3 separate regions of the Homo sapiens genome follow, and regions 1 and 2 are each reported to be linked to region 3. Evidence: microRNA targets listed by miRTarBase, many of them from high-throughput screens and not tested one by one. Region 3 holds a microRNA gene; each other region holds the end of a gene's coding sequence.

The links. The annotated mature microRNA hsa-miR-4309 reads CUGGAGUCUAGGAUUCCA and lies in region 3 at 1,488-1,505, opposite strand. An mRNA with a match to its seed (bases 2 to 7 or 8) in the 3' UTR can be bound and repressed. Matches are read on the target gene's strand: a 7mer-m8 pairs with bases 2 to 8, a 7mer-A1 pairs with bases 2 to 7 and ends in A, and an 8mer does both.
Region 1: miRTarBase lists POLR3A as a target of hsa-miR-4309. The part of its 3' UTR that is shown has no 7-base or 8-base seed match.
Region 2: miRTarBase lists FSD2 as a target of hsa-miR-4309. Seed matches in the 3' UTR shown: 7mer-m8 at 2,174-2,180.

The regions. Positions count from the first base shown.
Region 1 is chr10:77,973,030-77,978,029 of GRCh38, reverse strand. It overlaps POLR3A (RNA polymerase III subunit A), which reads left to right. Exons shown (of 31, transcript NM_007055.4): 31 at 404-2,881. The coding sequence ends at 552. Among named protein-coding and RNA genes, the nearest start is that of DLG5-AS1, 49 kb to the right of the region's middle.
Region 2 is chr15:82,755,202-82,760,201 of GRCh38, forward strand. FSD2 (fibronectin type III and SPRY domain containing 2) reads right to left here. Exons shown (of 13, transcript NM_001007122.4): 13 at 161-4,399. The coding sequence ends at 4,147. SNHG21 (small nucleolar RNA host gene 21) reads left to right here. Exons shown (of 3, transcript NR_110098.1): 3 at 1,703-2,005. It also overlaps SCARNA15. Among named protein-coding and RNA genes, the nearest start is that of SNHG21, 7.1 kb to the left of the region's middle.
Region 3 is chr14:102,535,983-102,541,158 of GRCh38, reverse strand. MIR4309 (microRNA 4309) reads right to left here and starts at 1,515; the gene lies at 1,433-1,515.

The DNA.
Region 1 (5,000 bases), not on the chromosome of region 3:
CTTTTCTTGGAGGCTCTAAGTTAAGGAAGCACTGGGTGGCAAACTTAGAGTTTCCTAAGCATCCTTCAGTATTCTTGCTAAGTTGTGTTCTCAAAGGCAGGGCCCTCCCAGGGTGCCTTTGGCTCAGGTGGGAGAGGAGAACTGGAGGAGCTGACTCTGTCTCCAACAAGCTCCTGGGCTGTGAGCAAGCCCTGCCCTTCCCTGAAAGTGCAGAATCCCCCTGTCTGCACTCCACAGCCACCCTTTTTAGATGGGAAGGAAAGGGATTTGCCAAAGTTCAGTTGATGTGGAGTGGCGCTGGGACTCACATCCTAATTTTCTGACACTTAAGCCAATAGTCTTTCTTCGTGAAAATGTACCTTGTGTTTAGAGGCTCTCTGATGTTCATTCTGGTTGGTTTCAGGGGTGTCTGAGTGCATCATCATGGGAATCCCAATGAACATTGGAACCGGGCTCTTCAAGCTGCTTCACAAGGCTGACAGGGACCCGAACCCTCCCAAGAGGCCCCTGATCTTCGACACAAATGAATTCCACATCCCCCTTGTCACATAGTCCAAAGAAAGAGGGGACCATGCCTGACCTTGACTCCTTGTCCTGTCTCCAGCTGATGTATAAAGAGTTTTGTGCTCCCTGGGACGGGGGTCCTGAGGTCCCCACCTATGCCAGCAATCAGAGAAGCCCTCTTGGCATCCCCAGGAGCAGCTTCTCCTCTGATAGGGTGCAGCTCACACCAGTGACCCTGACTGTGCCACGCTGCTCGGGAGAGCTGAGGGTTTTATTGTTTGCTTGCTTGAAACCTAATCTATAGACGGCCCCACAGCTCGTGCACACACTGCTTCCCTGGACTTAAAGCCCAGCCAGGTGTCATGGTCCATCCCAGCTCACTGCATACATCCATCGGCTCCCCATGGTGTCTTCACACCTGACGATGAGCCAGGCCTGAGCCCCACACAGGCCAGGGCACATTCTTGGATTTTCCATTCCTTGGTCATGCTGGAATCTCTCAATGTGACATACTTATGTAAATATTGTTACTATTATTTATTTGTTCCATTTGAGGGATTTGGAATTTTTGTTATTTTAGTTTTATTTTTGAAACCAAGCATCTATAGAAACCAAGAAAGTCAGCATGTAAGCGTCACTGGAAAAACTGGTTTAAGCAAATAGAGCCGTCTGGGATTTGTAACTGAGGTGCAACTGTCATGAGGCCCAGGCAGCTCTGTAACATCTTCTATAGATGCCCCTGGCTACCCTGTTGTTTTCATCTACCTCAGACCCCTATCATGGGGCTCTACCCTGTGACAAGAGCCAAACCCATTCTCCATGGCCTATGGAAGCCTCACTGGAGTTTGGGGCCTGCTGCAATGGGGATGAGATGGTTTTTTGTAGAATTATACTTACGTTCCTTGGATGATCTCTAGTTGATTTTTTAAGTTCTGAGTTGATGCTGTTAAGGTACCCGGGGTAGCCATTGGTTCTTGGATCTGTGTTAGAATGAGTGCTTTCCCTTCCTACTGATGTGATTGTGGATTAGGAATTCGTGACCGAGTGATTTTTGGCCAGTGGTTGGGTTTAAAATTCTATTAAAATTTGTAGTTTGGGCTGGGTGCTGTGGCTCATACCTATAATCCCAGCACTTTGGGAGGCCGAGGGGGGCAGATCACTTGAGCCCAGGAGTTCGAGAGCAGCCTGGGCAACATGACGAAACCCCGTCTCTACAGAGAATACAAAAATTAGCCAGGCATGGTGGCCCATGCCTGTAGTACCTGCTATTGGTAAGGCTGAGGTGGAAGGTTCACTTGAGCCTGGGAGGTGGAGGTTGTAGTGAGCCAAGATCGTGCCACTACACTCCAGCCTGGGCAACAAAGCAAGACCTTGTCTCAAAAAAAAAAAAGAAAAAAATTAAGCGTAAAAAAAAATTAGTTTTTATAAAAAATTATAGTTTGACCTTTTGATTTCCCTGCATCTACAAGGTAGACCTATTAACTTCTCTTGGGGTATCAGTGATGTGGAAAAAAAATGCCATTTTTCTTAATGTTTAACCCCCCTTTATCTTTGAATTGAGCTAGAGCCTGGTTTAGGACAAAGGATTAAGTTTGTTAATGAACACTAATTCAGGGCTTCTACTTGAGACCCCACCGAGATCACCAGTTCTCATGTAACCTGGGAAGAGCCATAAAGGGGTACCCCCCACCCCAACTGCCTTCCTGGAAGCATGCCTGGGAAGTAAGCTGTAGGCCTGATCCGAGCCAGGACCACTGGGATCCGTGCAAAGGCCAGGGGAGGGTAGAATTGAATCATAGGAGTGAACTCCGGCACCTGTTGTCTTCTGCGGGTGACGCACACTTTAAATGGAAGAGAGGTTGTGGCTATAACTTGTGGCTGGGAATAATAAAGATGGCACCGCCAAGGAGCCTCACCTTGCGTGAGTGAGTACTCAGTTGGGCGCTGCAGGGTCTGGAGTCTGTGTGAGACGTGTGTGATTGTGATGGGTGCGAATCAGCGTATAGCACTTGAGAACAAGGCAGACCTTGGAGCAGAATGGTTATGTGAAGGATCACATCACCCATGGGTAGGGGGGGAAGTCATACGTCCTGGAGGTGCTGGTCCTCCTCCTGGAACTGCCAGCCTTGCTAGGACTATCAACATCAACAGCATTGCCTGGTAAACCCTACTGTTTGTGCTCCCCACTGTGTCCCATGACTGGTGTTAAAATTCTCCCTACTTTGATCATCTGCCCTGCCCAGGCCTTGGGCTTTATGCCAGCACAGAGCTCAAAGGCCAGGTAGCAGCACATCCTCAAGCATGAGAGCTCAAAGGGTTACATTTGAGTCTCTGTACCTGCTTGGAAGAAATAAAAATACGTGTGAATTCCATCTCATCCATGAATAGTTACAAATTCTTGACTAGCATTCTGTCCAGTTCTTTGCCATTTTTACGTCTTTTTTACAAGGGAGATTAAAATAGCTCCTGACTCAGTTACAGCTCCCTGCAGTGTTCAGCACTTTAGGGGTGGGAGAGACATTCTGGAGTCCTTCAGTATATATATGTGTCAGTTAAACTATGGTGCCGTGTTTCTATTTCAGGGTTTATCCATGTGTATTCCCATTGATTCATGTCTGATTGAACCTGGCATTGTATGTTTACTTTTCTTGATTTTTGCTGTCTGTTGGCAGACCTCTTTATTTTTCAGCCAAAACCCAAGAGAGGAAATATTTGCGTTACCTAAAACTATAGCAGAATCATCCTTATGGGTTGTGAAAAAGGACGTTGGCCTTGTATGAGTTCTAACTCCTAGAATGAGAACCAACCCCCGTCAGGAGCTCACCTCTTCGGGTGCTGGAGGTCAACAGTGAATGCCCCAGTTACCCCCACCCCTGTGACTTAGAAATGTAGGAAATAAAGTGCCCTCTGAGATGCAGCTAATCCAGTCCCAGTAGGAGGCGCTGAAAGGACTCAAGTCTGGAGTCTGAAGGGCCGTCTGGCCAGGATCAGGTGCATAGCTTAACTTTTATTCATTCAACAAAGATTTAAGGCTTGCTACTTCCAAGGCACTGTTCTAGGTATTAGGGGTGCAGCAGTAAACACAATAGGTGAATCAGATGTTAATACATCTGGCCAGGCACGGTGGTTCACGCCTGTAATTCCAGCACTTTGGGAGGCCGAGGCGAGTGGATCACCTGAGGTCAGGAGTTGGAGACCAGCCTGGCCAACATGGTGAAACCCCGTCTCTACTAAAAATAGAAAAATTAGCTGGGTGTGGTGGCACGTGCCTGTAATCCCAGCTACTGGGGAGGCTGAGGTAGGAGAATTGCTTGAACCAAGGAGACAGAGGTTGCAGTGAGCCGAGATCACACCATTGCACTCCAGCCTGGGAGACAGAGCGAGACTCCATCTCAGAAAAAAAAAAAAAAAAAAAAAAAAAGATGTTAATACATCTAAAAGGAATTCCACAGAAGCGGGTGAAGCAAAAAGGCTCAGGTTCAGTGTGCAGAAGTGTGTCCAGCACACTCTGGGGTGGAAGCTGCAGATCAAGGGATTGTGCTCCCGTGGGCACATCAGGCCCACCAGGGTAAAGAAAGGTCCTTCTGTGGCTGCAGCCCTCTGGTTCCAACCCCTCCCACAGGGCCTCTCATGACACTAATTTGGCCTCCTTACCTTAGGCTTGGATTCTGGGGAGTGTGCCCTGAGCGAGGACACAAGCCTGCAGTCACTGGGAAACGTTGCCACCATCCTTTCCTCAACCTACTGGCAGTGTTAGCGTGTGAACATTTGAATCCATTAATATTTGCTACACTTCTGCTCTGTGCCAGGCAGTGCACTAGGCCCTTGGGGAAGGTCCCTGCATGAATGGAGCTTACCATCTGGTCAGGGTCATCTTGTTAAGAGCCTGAGTTCTACAATCAGTGTCAGGATTTAAATCCCAACTCCCCCTTTCTTTTTTTTATTTTTATAATTTTTTTTTTTATTTTAAATAGAGACAGGTCTTGCTATATGTTGCCCAGCTGGTCTCGAACACCTGGGCTCAAGCAATCCTCTCAAAGTGCTGGGATTACAGGCGTGAGCCGCCATGCCCAGCGTCAATTCTCCCTTTCCATCTGGTGCACATGAACAAATTACTTAACCTCTCCTTGCCTCACTTTACTCATTTATAAGCTAGGAATACTGTTTAGTAGTGTTTGACTCATTGGGTCATTGTGAGTTTTAAACGTGATTACACATAAAAAGGTCTTAGTACAGTGCCTGGCACATAATACACATTAAATGTTTGCAATTATTAATACAGTGACTTTTTTTTTTACTGAAAAACATGGTCTGTGAATTCACAACTAAAAACCAATCCCCTGGCTCTCTTTATTTGACCCTAAGTGGAGCTTGGTGGACTTGGGATCCAGCCTCCCTAGACATAATGACTACCCAGCTGTCTGCTCAATCAGTAGGTCGTGGGAAGTATTTTACATGGGGGGGGAGAAGGGTTCGGGAAGGGGATGGATGTGGCC
Region 2 (5,000 bases), not on the chromosome of region 3:
GTTTTGTTGGCTGTGTACTTTCCCAGTGAATGGATTATATTCCTTTCTGCGAGCCAGTCTGTTTGAATTTAAGGGCATCTCTTAAATTCCTTTCAAGCAAGAGACCTAACATTTATACTTAGGAATGAGAGTAGTAGAGACAGCAAGATTAGAATCCAAGTTCATATACCAAAACATTTTTATTTGCTATGTCTGAGTGACTACATGTTGTTTGAATCAACTGCAGGCTAATTTGTAACATTTCAAATAAATGATAGTTTAATTCCTCCAGGATTTGAGTAAGGTGAAAATAGAGCTAAAAACCATGATTCTGTCACAGTCTGGGAAAATGAAAAAGCAATCAATTAGTGAGTTGGGCTTAATTTTTTTTTTTTTTTTTTCTGGAACTGGTGATAGCAGAAAACAAGCAGTAAAGTAGTCAGACATGATATACTTGACAAGAACCACCACCTGTTCAGTAGCAACTCTAAAATAAGTACTAACTTAGGGGCAGTTGTTGTGCCCAGGTCATAGTCATACTCCTTCCAGGAGACTTCCTGATGACAGAAAAGATGCTGACCAGCTGGGGTCTTCTTTCCAAATAACTTTTCTCTTGCATTTAGATTAATTAACCATTGGTTACAGTGAAACAAGCATATGTACAGAGTTAATCTCCTATAGCTTGAAGTTATACATGATCTTTATTTGAGTATCTTGACTTGTTAAAGGACAGTGTTTTAAAAGCTGGATTTGGTTATGTTCTTCTGGAGACTAAGAAAATAGAGTCCTTGAAATCAAGCTGACTCTGCTTTTAGCCTCCTAAATGAAAAGGTAGATAGAACAGGTCTTGTTTGCAAAATAAATTCAAGACCTACTTATCTACCAACAGCAATTACACGCTTTCCATTGTCTTCCTATAGAAAATAGGAGTAGTACACTTATAGATGAGAAAACTGGAGAAAGACATAGTGAACATGTGAGAATCTTGCTCTACTAATTGATAGGAAGGTGACTAGAAATTGGCGAAGTTTTCTTGGTAAGTTGAGGAGAGGACTTTTCTTATAGTGCAGTCTGGTAGCTGAACCGCCTTGCATCAAGACCAATGTAGTCTTATTTACAGAATGCCACATCACAGTGAATTGTGCTGTGGACAGCTTCCAGTGTGTGAGTTGTGGAAGATGATGATTTTAACAGATTTTGGAGGATGAGAAGTATTAAGAAGAAGGCCCCACTGTCCATGCATTTGCTCTGCTTTTTACTTTTGACCAAGTATACACTTCAGAAATATCTTATTGGATGTATACAAAGTGATTGTGTGTCATTTGAACCAGCAGGAAGTAATTTATTAAACACACTTTTCTAAATAAAAGTCATTTAATTTTATCAGAAATCAGTGTCATTTTAGATTGCAAGTCTCAAACCAACTTTCCAATTCTGACTTGTAAGGGTGCCTTAAATCCTGAATACTGTACTCTGTATTACTAAACCCATGTTAGTTTACGCCAAGATTCTGTGGTGGTTTTACATATTCTTTTTCCCCTTTGTTAAGGTGGGGAGGCCACAGCTTATGTGAATGACTTTCTCAGGAGTTATAAAGTGATACAGGTAAAGCTAAGAAAAGAACAGATTTTGATAACTTTTGTTTTAACTGTCCAGTGTTAGGGATTGTGGCTACAGTGGTCTAATTTTTAAAAACTCTTTTTTTTGCTTTGTTTTTTAACAGACTTATCAGCAGGTTGCAGGTGAACATGGCCTTGAGGTAAATCTGTCCCTTGCTGAATACAGTTTCAGTAGATTGTTTATAGTAGTTTCAGGAATTGAGATTTTTTACAAAAATACAAAAGTTTTGCTTGGTTCTGTTCTAGATGTTTTCTTCTAAATAAATGAGAAAGATGTTTCAACAAAGGCTCTTTATGCTGAATAATTGTGATGCTTGAAGTTGCTAATCTGCTTTAAGTGGATTTTAAATGTCAGGCAATTCTAGACAGTTTTTTCTTGGTCAAATAAAAATTTAATTAAAACTTTATACGTGTTGAGTTTTTAATCCATTTATCCGTGTTCATACTAACGTGTAGTATTCCATAAAGCCTATTAGAACCCTGAATTCAAACTTGCCTTCTCTGTGATATCCTGTTTCTTACTTGGTAGTTTCTATTTCAGTAGCTGAGAACTTTTTTTTTTTTTTTTTTTGAGATGGAGTCTTGATCTGTGAGCCATCTCGGCTCACTGCAAGCTCCACCTCCCGGGTTCACGCCATTCTCCTGCCTCAGCCTCCCGAGTAGCTGGGACTACAGGCGCCCGCCACCAGTCCCGGCTAATTTTTTTGTATTTTTAGTAGAGACGGGGTTTCACCGTATTAGCCAGGATGGTCTCGATCTCCTGACCTTGTGATCCATCCACCTTGGCCCCCCAAAGTGCTGGGATTACAGGCGTGAGCCACCGCGCCCGGCCGAGAACATTTTTAAATATACATGATATGTATCTTTTAATTGTTTATAACTGGAACTATTTCTGTGCTTACATCTGCTGTCCCTTGTTTCAGAGTAGACAGTCCAGCTTGGCAGGATAGGTGTGTGTGTGTATAACGAGTTATTAAATTGTCAGTGTGAATTGTTAATTCAGGAATCTGAGCTGCCATTTATACGAGTAGGCAGAGTTTAGTAGGAGATGAGAGTCTTTCAGTTTGTCAGACTTTGCAGGTGCTGGAAAACATCAGAGGTTTTTTGTTTGTTTGTTTGTTTGTTTTTGAGACAGAGTTGCGCTCTTGTTGCCAAGGCTGGAGTGCAGTGGCACAATCTCGGCTCACTGCAGCCTCTGCCCCCGGGTTCAAGCAATTCTCCTGCCTCAGCCTCCTGAGTAGCTGGGATTACAGGCGCCCACCACCATGCCCGGCTAATTTTTTGTATTTTTAGTAGAGACGGGGTTTCGCCAGAAAAAAGAAAAGTGGACTTTTTTTTTTTAAACACAAAACCTTAAATGATGAGATTAGGGCATATCTGGGTTTAGAGGCATCTGTGGGACATGATACTGAATTGTAATTGCTTCACAAATGGAATTATTCTGCAGCTTCACTCACAAGCTTTGAAAATGCTGTGTGTGCAGAGCTTAAGTGGCAACTGGAAACTTGAACAGGAGAACCAGGAATGTAGCTGATGGAGTTGGGCATTGAGCTCACAGAATGGCCTGGGGGCAGTGAGGCAGGATGCCTGAAAGCTGCCTAGCTAGAGATCAGTCTTCCTTCCCGTGCTCAGCTTTGCCCTTTGGTGGGCTGTTAATTTCTTTTAAAAAATTGTTGTGCATTTGCTAATATGCCACAGATGCCCTTCTGTTCTTTCACGCTGCCTCCATTCTAGGTTTTTTCCCATTTCTTGGCCATAGGTCCTTTGCTGTAGTTTTGAAAGAGCCCTGCCATCCTTCACATGGAGAGCAGTAAGAGGCCAAAGAGCAGTGGCTGAAGAAGATACTAATTTATTCAACAAATACTTGGTGACAGCTGTTATGTGTTAGCCCTTGGTGATCTAGCAATGAACAAAACAGGCACTGTCCCTCCCTTCATGGAATTAGGCATTATAGAGGTAATTTCAAAATTAGAGAGTGGTGCATACTGTGTAGGAGTGGAACAGGGAATACCCTGTATGCAGAGTACACAGTGGAAGGGACCTCACCACAGTGCTGCTCACTATTGGGAAAACGAGGGTAGAAGACATTGAGAAGGGCACACAGCTTCCCTGGTTCTCTACAGACAGCCTCTCGCCTTCTCAAGTGTATTCTTGGCTGACTCATGAAATGCATGGGTGTACTGGTGCTGCTGGAGCCATTAAGACTACCCTCGTCCTCTCCCAAGCTCTCTAGGTCTTGGAAACTCAAGATATTTTGCATATACACGAATATAGTTTGACAGCTTCAAAGACTTTTGAGTTCGTTTAGTCTGAGCCTTTATTTTACAGCTGGGCCTGGTAATGACTATCCTAGCAGCACACAGGTAGCAGCACACAGGACTAGAATCCAGGTTGGGTGAAATGAGCGCTAGCACACCAGTCAGATAATAGCATGAGCCATAAATTGTGCTGGGCACATGGTGCTTAAGTGCCAGGTTCAGCCAGCTAAGGCGTGAGCAGCTGCGAGAGGGGTAGGCATGGAAGACAGGAAACTGGACATCAGAATGTTCTAATAGAAAGTGACATGTTTTGGCATTGAAATGCCATTATGTACCTTTAGACACCCAGGCTTTTCCAAAGAAAAACAGGGATGCACAAATTCGTGAAGCTGACAACTAAATGTATATAGATGCTGAGAAAGGTCCACATTGAAAAATGACAACTTTGAATGTTCATAGTCTAATAGAATGCCAATCTTCTTTGGTGGAACTGTTATTCTTATATCTGGAGTTGTTCTGTTGTGCAGAAATTCATACTTATGCCTGAAAATTAAATTTGACATAATAAAGTTTCAGTAATTCTATAGATTGACTATTTATAGAACATTTCATACTAATTTTATTCATAGTCCTATGATTTTGCTATTTTCTAGTATTAAATGACTACCAAGGTGACAAGCCATTTCTAAAACTATACTCTCTAAACTATCTCTTTTCTAAAATTTGTCCTAAGAAACATTTTCTTTTTTTTTTTTAGATGGAGTCTTGCTCTGTCACCCAGGCTGGAGTGCAGTGGTGCAATCTCGGCTCACTGCAACCTCAGCCTCCTGGGTTCAAGCAATTCTCCCACCTTAGCCTCCTGAGTAGCTGGGATTACAGGCGTGCACCACCAAGCCCGGCTAATTTTTGTATTTTTAGTAGAGACAGGGTTTCACTGTGTTGCCCAGGCTGGTCTCGAACTCCTGAGCTCAGGCAGTCCACTTGCCTTGGCCTCCCAAAGTGCTGGGATTACAAGTGTGAGCCACTGCTTCTGGCCGAAACATTTTTCAAACATCATTTTTTCTCTAGCAACCTCTTAACCTAAGAAATTTACCTATAGCATCCTGAACTCTCTTTCATCTAAACTAGCATAGGAATAGAACAT
Region 3 (5,176 bases):
GGTGAAACCCCGACGGAGGCTCTGTCCACAGAGCTGTCTGGCAGGTCCTTGCAACTGTACAGCGCAGCCAGCCCAGCCTCCAGGCCTAGTGCCTGGGTTAGTCATGGCCCCTCCATCACAGGCAACGCGTGGCTCTACCGGGAAGGTGCTCAGGTGGAGGAATTTCACACAAGGTGACGGGGGCCAGGGCATGCTTCCGGCAGGAAGTCAGCCCTGGAGATCTCAATACTCACATGTGTGTCTCAGTCACACTGTGTGTTTGTGTGTGCGGAACGTAGAGAGCTGATCACCTCAAGGGACATCCCAGCCCATAGCCCCCCACCGCACACACACCCCCAACGCACACACACAAACATGTTCCCAATGCAAAGCATGCAGTGTTGCCCAATGCGCTCATCCCGGAGGCAGGTGTCCGCTTCGACACCGTGTGGTGACACATGCACGACGGGGGCAGATCCCCAGCACCCGCCTTCTCATTGTGAGCCGCCTTTGTTTTGCATTCAGACACGTGGAGCCCCGGGAACCAAGCTGCAGGGCCAGTGCCTTCCAGCCTTCCAGGCCCGAAGCCTCCAGTCCCTCAGGAGCTCCTCAGGCCTTCAGGAGCCCCGGCAAGCACCCTCCGGCTCCCAAGCCCTTCCGGGCCTGCCAGCGGCCTGCTGTAGAGTGGGGTGGGAAGCCGTTGGGAGGGAGGAGCAGAGGAGTTCTGGTCTCCCCTAGCCGGGCCTCCTGCCGGGACACCTGCCAGCTGCTCCCCACCCCCGGCCTTGGCTCCTGGCCTGGCAGCCCCCGATTCCTCCCCTTCACACACTCAGGACTGCAAAGAAGGCCGGGGGAGGCCCCACTAAAGCACAGCCTCCAAGGTACACCTGGAGACTCGGGGACCTTGGGGGCCCTCAATCCCTCTGGGCCTCAGTTTCCCCCAGAAAGACAGGCCCAGAATCAAGAGGGATCTATGACAATGGGGGTGGGATTAGGCGTGTGTGTGCTTCCTGCGCATCCTGGCAGGCTGTGGGCGTTCTTGGCAGGCATCCACCAGTCCCCAGGCTCTGGAGGAGGAGGCCGGATGGGGGTGGGAGGCTGGGAGCCCCGGGGGAATGAGCTGCACCGCCCACACCGCCATAGGAGCGGCCTCCACACACCCAGCCCAGAGAGGCTGGACCCACAGGGCAGTGGCCTCAGAGGAGATGCTGGGCTCCCTTGCTGGTGTTGGGGAGGGTCGTCTTGGGTGGTCTTCCCCCTACCTTTCGCCCAAAGGTGCTCTGGGACAGACCCCTGACCACCTCCAAAGACTTGGGCCTCAGTCTCCATAGAACGAGGGGTTTCTGGACCACCTGCCAGCTGCCTGGGCAGGGCTGAGCACCAGCACTTTAGGTCCATTGAACTTTGGGGGCTGCCCAGTCCACCCCACTGCTTTCACCTCTGTCCTGGGTTACAAGAGGGGCTTCAAACCGCAGACCCTACAACCCAAGACCTCAAAACCCAGATCCTGGAATCCTAGACTCCAGAACCCCCAGACAGGAACCCGGACCAAGAATGTTCCCCAGAGCTGCTCAGGGGCCACGTAGGGCCTTTCTGTCCTTCTGTGACAAAGACACTTGTCACTCGCGCTCCAGGGATGGGGCATGGAGTGCCTGCCTTCAGAATCTGAAAGGCCTTCTCCAGAAACTCCCGGTCTCCACCCCCGGCCCGCCAAGGGGCGGGTGCATCCCACCTGCTGTGGGCTGAACCTAGTCCTGGTGGCTCTTATCAGTGCCCTGAGAGGTCCCCGGGAGGGAGCCGCATCCCACCAATGGATGAGGACACAGGAGCCCCATGGAGCTCACCCCCAGCCTGGCCTTCCCAGAACAGAAAGATGGCGGCCCCCAGGAGGCCCTCCTGGCCCTGGCCCGGGTCGGCTGAGGGCAGGGCCTGGTGACAGTTTCCGGTGTGTCCTCCGCAACAGCCTTCTCAGGCTCTCACCCTCACCCCACCCCAGAGTCTCTGTACACCCCTGCTTGGACAGCTGGGGGGCACATAGAGCATGACTCCGGCCCACCAGGGCCAGGGTGGGGGCTGCACCCCAAATGCCTTTGGCCTGAGTCCTCTAGCGGTTGGGAGGAGCCACCCTGACAGGGGCATCAGGTGATGTCCTAATTGCATCCAGTTAGGATCCAGTAGGCCTCAGTGGGCCCCAATAGCAGCTGGGGCCAGGCCTGGAGGAGGGGATCTGAGCCCTGGGCCGGCCGGGCAGCTACGCAGGACTCTGCGGGGCCGGGCATGGCCTGGCGTTTCACACGACCCAGTCCCATCCCTGGGCCTCAGTCTTCTGTGTGTGGAACAGGAACACCCCCTTGAGGGCTGTGGTGAGGACCCGATGATACTGGCGAAGTGCCCTGGGCCCAGCTGGCCCTCCTGTCTTGGTCCCGGGGCATGGTGGGAAGGGAGCTGGGGGGCAGAGTGTGGCAGGGTCATCCCCCTCCTGACTTCCTGGCGTGGCATTGAGTTGGGAAAGGTTGCAAAGGGGTGAGCTCTCCTGAACTGGTGGCCCAGGCAGCTGGGGAGGGGCAGCACAGCGCAGAGTGCCCCTGCTGGGTGCTGGGTGGGGCACCAGTGTCCAGAACGCTCAACACAGCCCTCCCCTTGGGGCTGCAAGGCCCCCACCCCATATTAGCCTGGCAGCACTGGGGATGTGGCACCAACACCTTCCAGTGGAAGTGTCTGTGACGGGAGGTGAAGGCTGGGTATTTAAACATCTGGAACCAGCTCTGAAGGCCAGGCCCGCTGTGGGGGGTTTGGGTTCCAGCCAGCCGCGCAGCGTGGGAAGGATCACAGCAGTGTGGGCCAGTGGAGAGCGGTGGCTGGCTCCAAGTACAGATTCTGCCTCAGTTTCTCCATGGGTGTCTTGGGGGCTGGTCTTCCTCAGCCCCAGCTGCCTGCCCTTCTCGCCCCCCCACAGCTCATTTCTGCAGGTGGCCCTCCCTCCAGCCCCGGCTGGGCCCCTTCCCTGTGGCTGAGTTACCCCCGGCCTGCCCCTGCCAGTGGGGCTCCTGCTCCCACGGGGGCATCCTTCACACATTTTTTCCCAAACCGCCCCTCTCCCGCGTCATCACAGCTCCTTGGATTTACATCGGCCAGAGCAGCAGGCCTGGGCCTCCTGTTCACCAGCCATCCCTGTCACTGAAGCTGGTGTGCCCTGGGGCAGGGTCAGGGATGTGGCACAGAAGGCTGCCCGGCAAGTGCCTGAGGAAAGAGGGAAAGTCTGAATGCACAGAAACAAACACATCAACAGATGCTATTCACAGCTCACGAGAATCCCATGATATCCCCATTTACAGAAGTAGTGGGCACAGAGAGGTTAAGCAACTTGCCTGGAGTCACACAGCCTGGAAGTGGCAGAGCTGGGATTTGAAGTCAGATGAGTGACAGCCTTCAGCAGCAGGCCCTTTCCCTGAAAAATGGGACCTCCTGGAGGCTGGATAAGGCCTCAGTGGAGACACTGTGGCCCTCACAGCAAGTCTGACAGACACACAAACAGAGACTTCAGGTCTTGCCCTGGGAGGAGAAGGAGCTGGCCCTGCTTCCTCTCCTGCCTGGGGAAGGATGTGCACACACCAGGAAGCCACCAAGAGGGGCTCAGATCCCAGCAGGTTTGCCCTTGGCCTGGGCCCCAGACCCCCCTGTGGTCCTAGGTCTGAGGACCTGCCTGGGGACAGGGCTGGGCCGCTGGTCCCAGGGCCTTGCAGCCCCAAGGGGAGGGCTGTGTTGGGCATCCTTGAAACTGGTGCCCCACCCAGCACCCTGACGTACTCCCCTGGGGGTCAGCTCTCCACAGCAGCTGAGGTTGGAGGGCTTAGGGGCCCCAGAAGTGCCTTGCCGGTCAGTCACCCTCAGAGCACCAGGGAGGACTCTCCCAGGAGCTTATTAGAAATGGAGGGTCCAGCCGGGCGCAGTGGCTCACACCTGTAATCCCAGCACTTTGGGAGGCCGAGGCGGGAGGATCACGCGATCAGGAAATCAAGAACATCCTGGCTAATACGGTGAAACCCAGTCTCTACTAAAAATACAGAAAATTAGCCAGGTGTGGTGGCAGGCGACTGTAGTCCTAGCTACTCGAGAGGCTGAGGCAGGAGAATGGCATGAACCCGGGAGGCGGAGCTTGCAGTGAGCTGAGATCGCACCACTGCACTCCAGCCTGGGTGACAGAGCGAGACTCCATCTCAAAAAAAAAAAAAAAAAAAAAAAAAAGAAATGGAGGGTCCTGGCCAGGCACCGTGGCTCACGCCTGTAATCCCAGCACTTTGGGAGGCCAAGGCGGGCAGATCACAAGGTCAGGAGTTCGAGACCAGCCTGGGCGACATGGTGAAACCCCTGTCTCTACTAAAAATACAAAAATTAGCCAGGCATGGTGGCGCAGGCCTGTAATCCCAGCTACTCAGGAGGCTGAGGCAGGAGAATCACTTGAACCTGGGAGGCAGAGGTTGCAGTGAGCCGAGATTGCGCCACTGCACTCCAGCCTGGGCAACAGAATCGAAACTCCATCTCAAAAAAAAAAGAAAGAAAGAAACAAGCCCCTGAACTCTGCTCCCTCTCCTGTCTCCAACTCACGAGGAGGAGCAGGCAGGCTCGTGGCTTATCTGCAAGGCTGTTGTAGTCGGGCGGGTCGGGGGACATAGGGTAATCCCTCCAGCGTCCTATCGATGTCCCTGGTCACCCTCCGCAGTGATTGCACGAAGAGCTTTCACTGAGCACTCCAGCTGTCCCGAGAGCTGTCAGGGGATCTCACCTGCTCAGGACTCCTCGTTTTGCAGTGGAGGAAAGTGAGGCACAGAGAAGTTATGTAATTTGTCTAGAAGTATGTAACACAGCTGGCATGCATAGGAGCCGGGATTCGAACCCAAGCCATCAGGCCCAGAACCCCTGCTCTTAACCATGAAAGTTATATGTCTTCTTGTGTAAAACAGCTGGAGCCCCCATCACGCGACAGGGAGAATGGCCATCTTTCTTCCCTGGGTCCTACAGGAAGTCCAGGCACCCCAGGGGCTTCCTCCATTCTGAAGAAAGACTAGGAAAACCTCTGTCCCAGGACACCCTTCTCTGCCGCCCACTGCCCGGCTGCTGGGGCTGCCTCACTGAGGTAGGTGTCAAGGGCACAGGAGGGGAGGGGTGCTCCCAGGGCCTGGCTGCCAGGGAATTTACA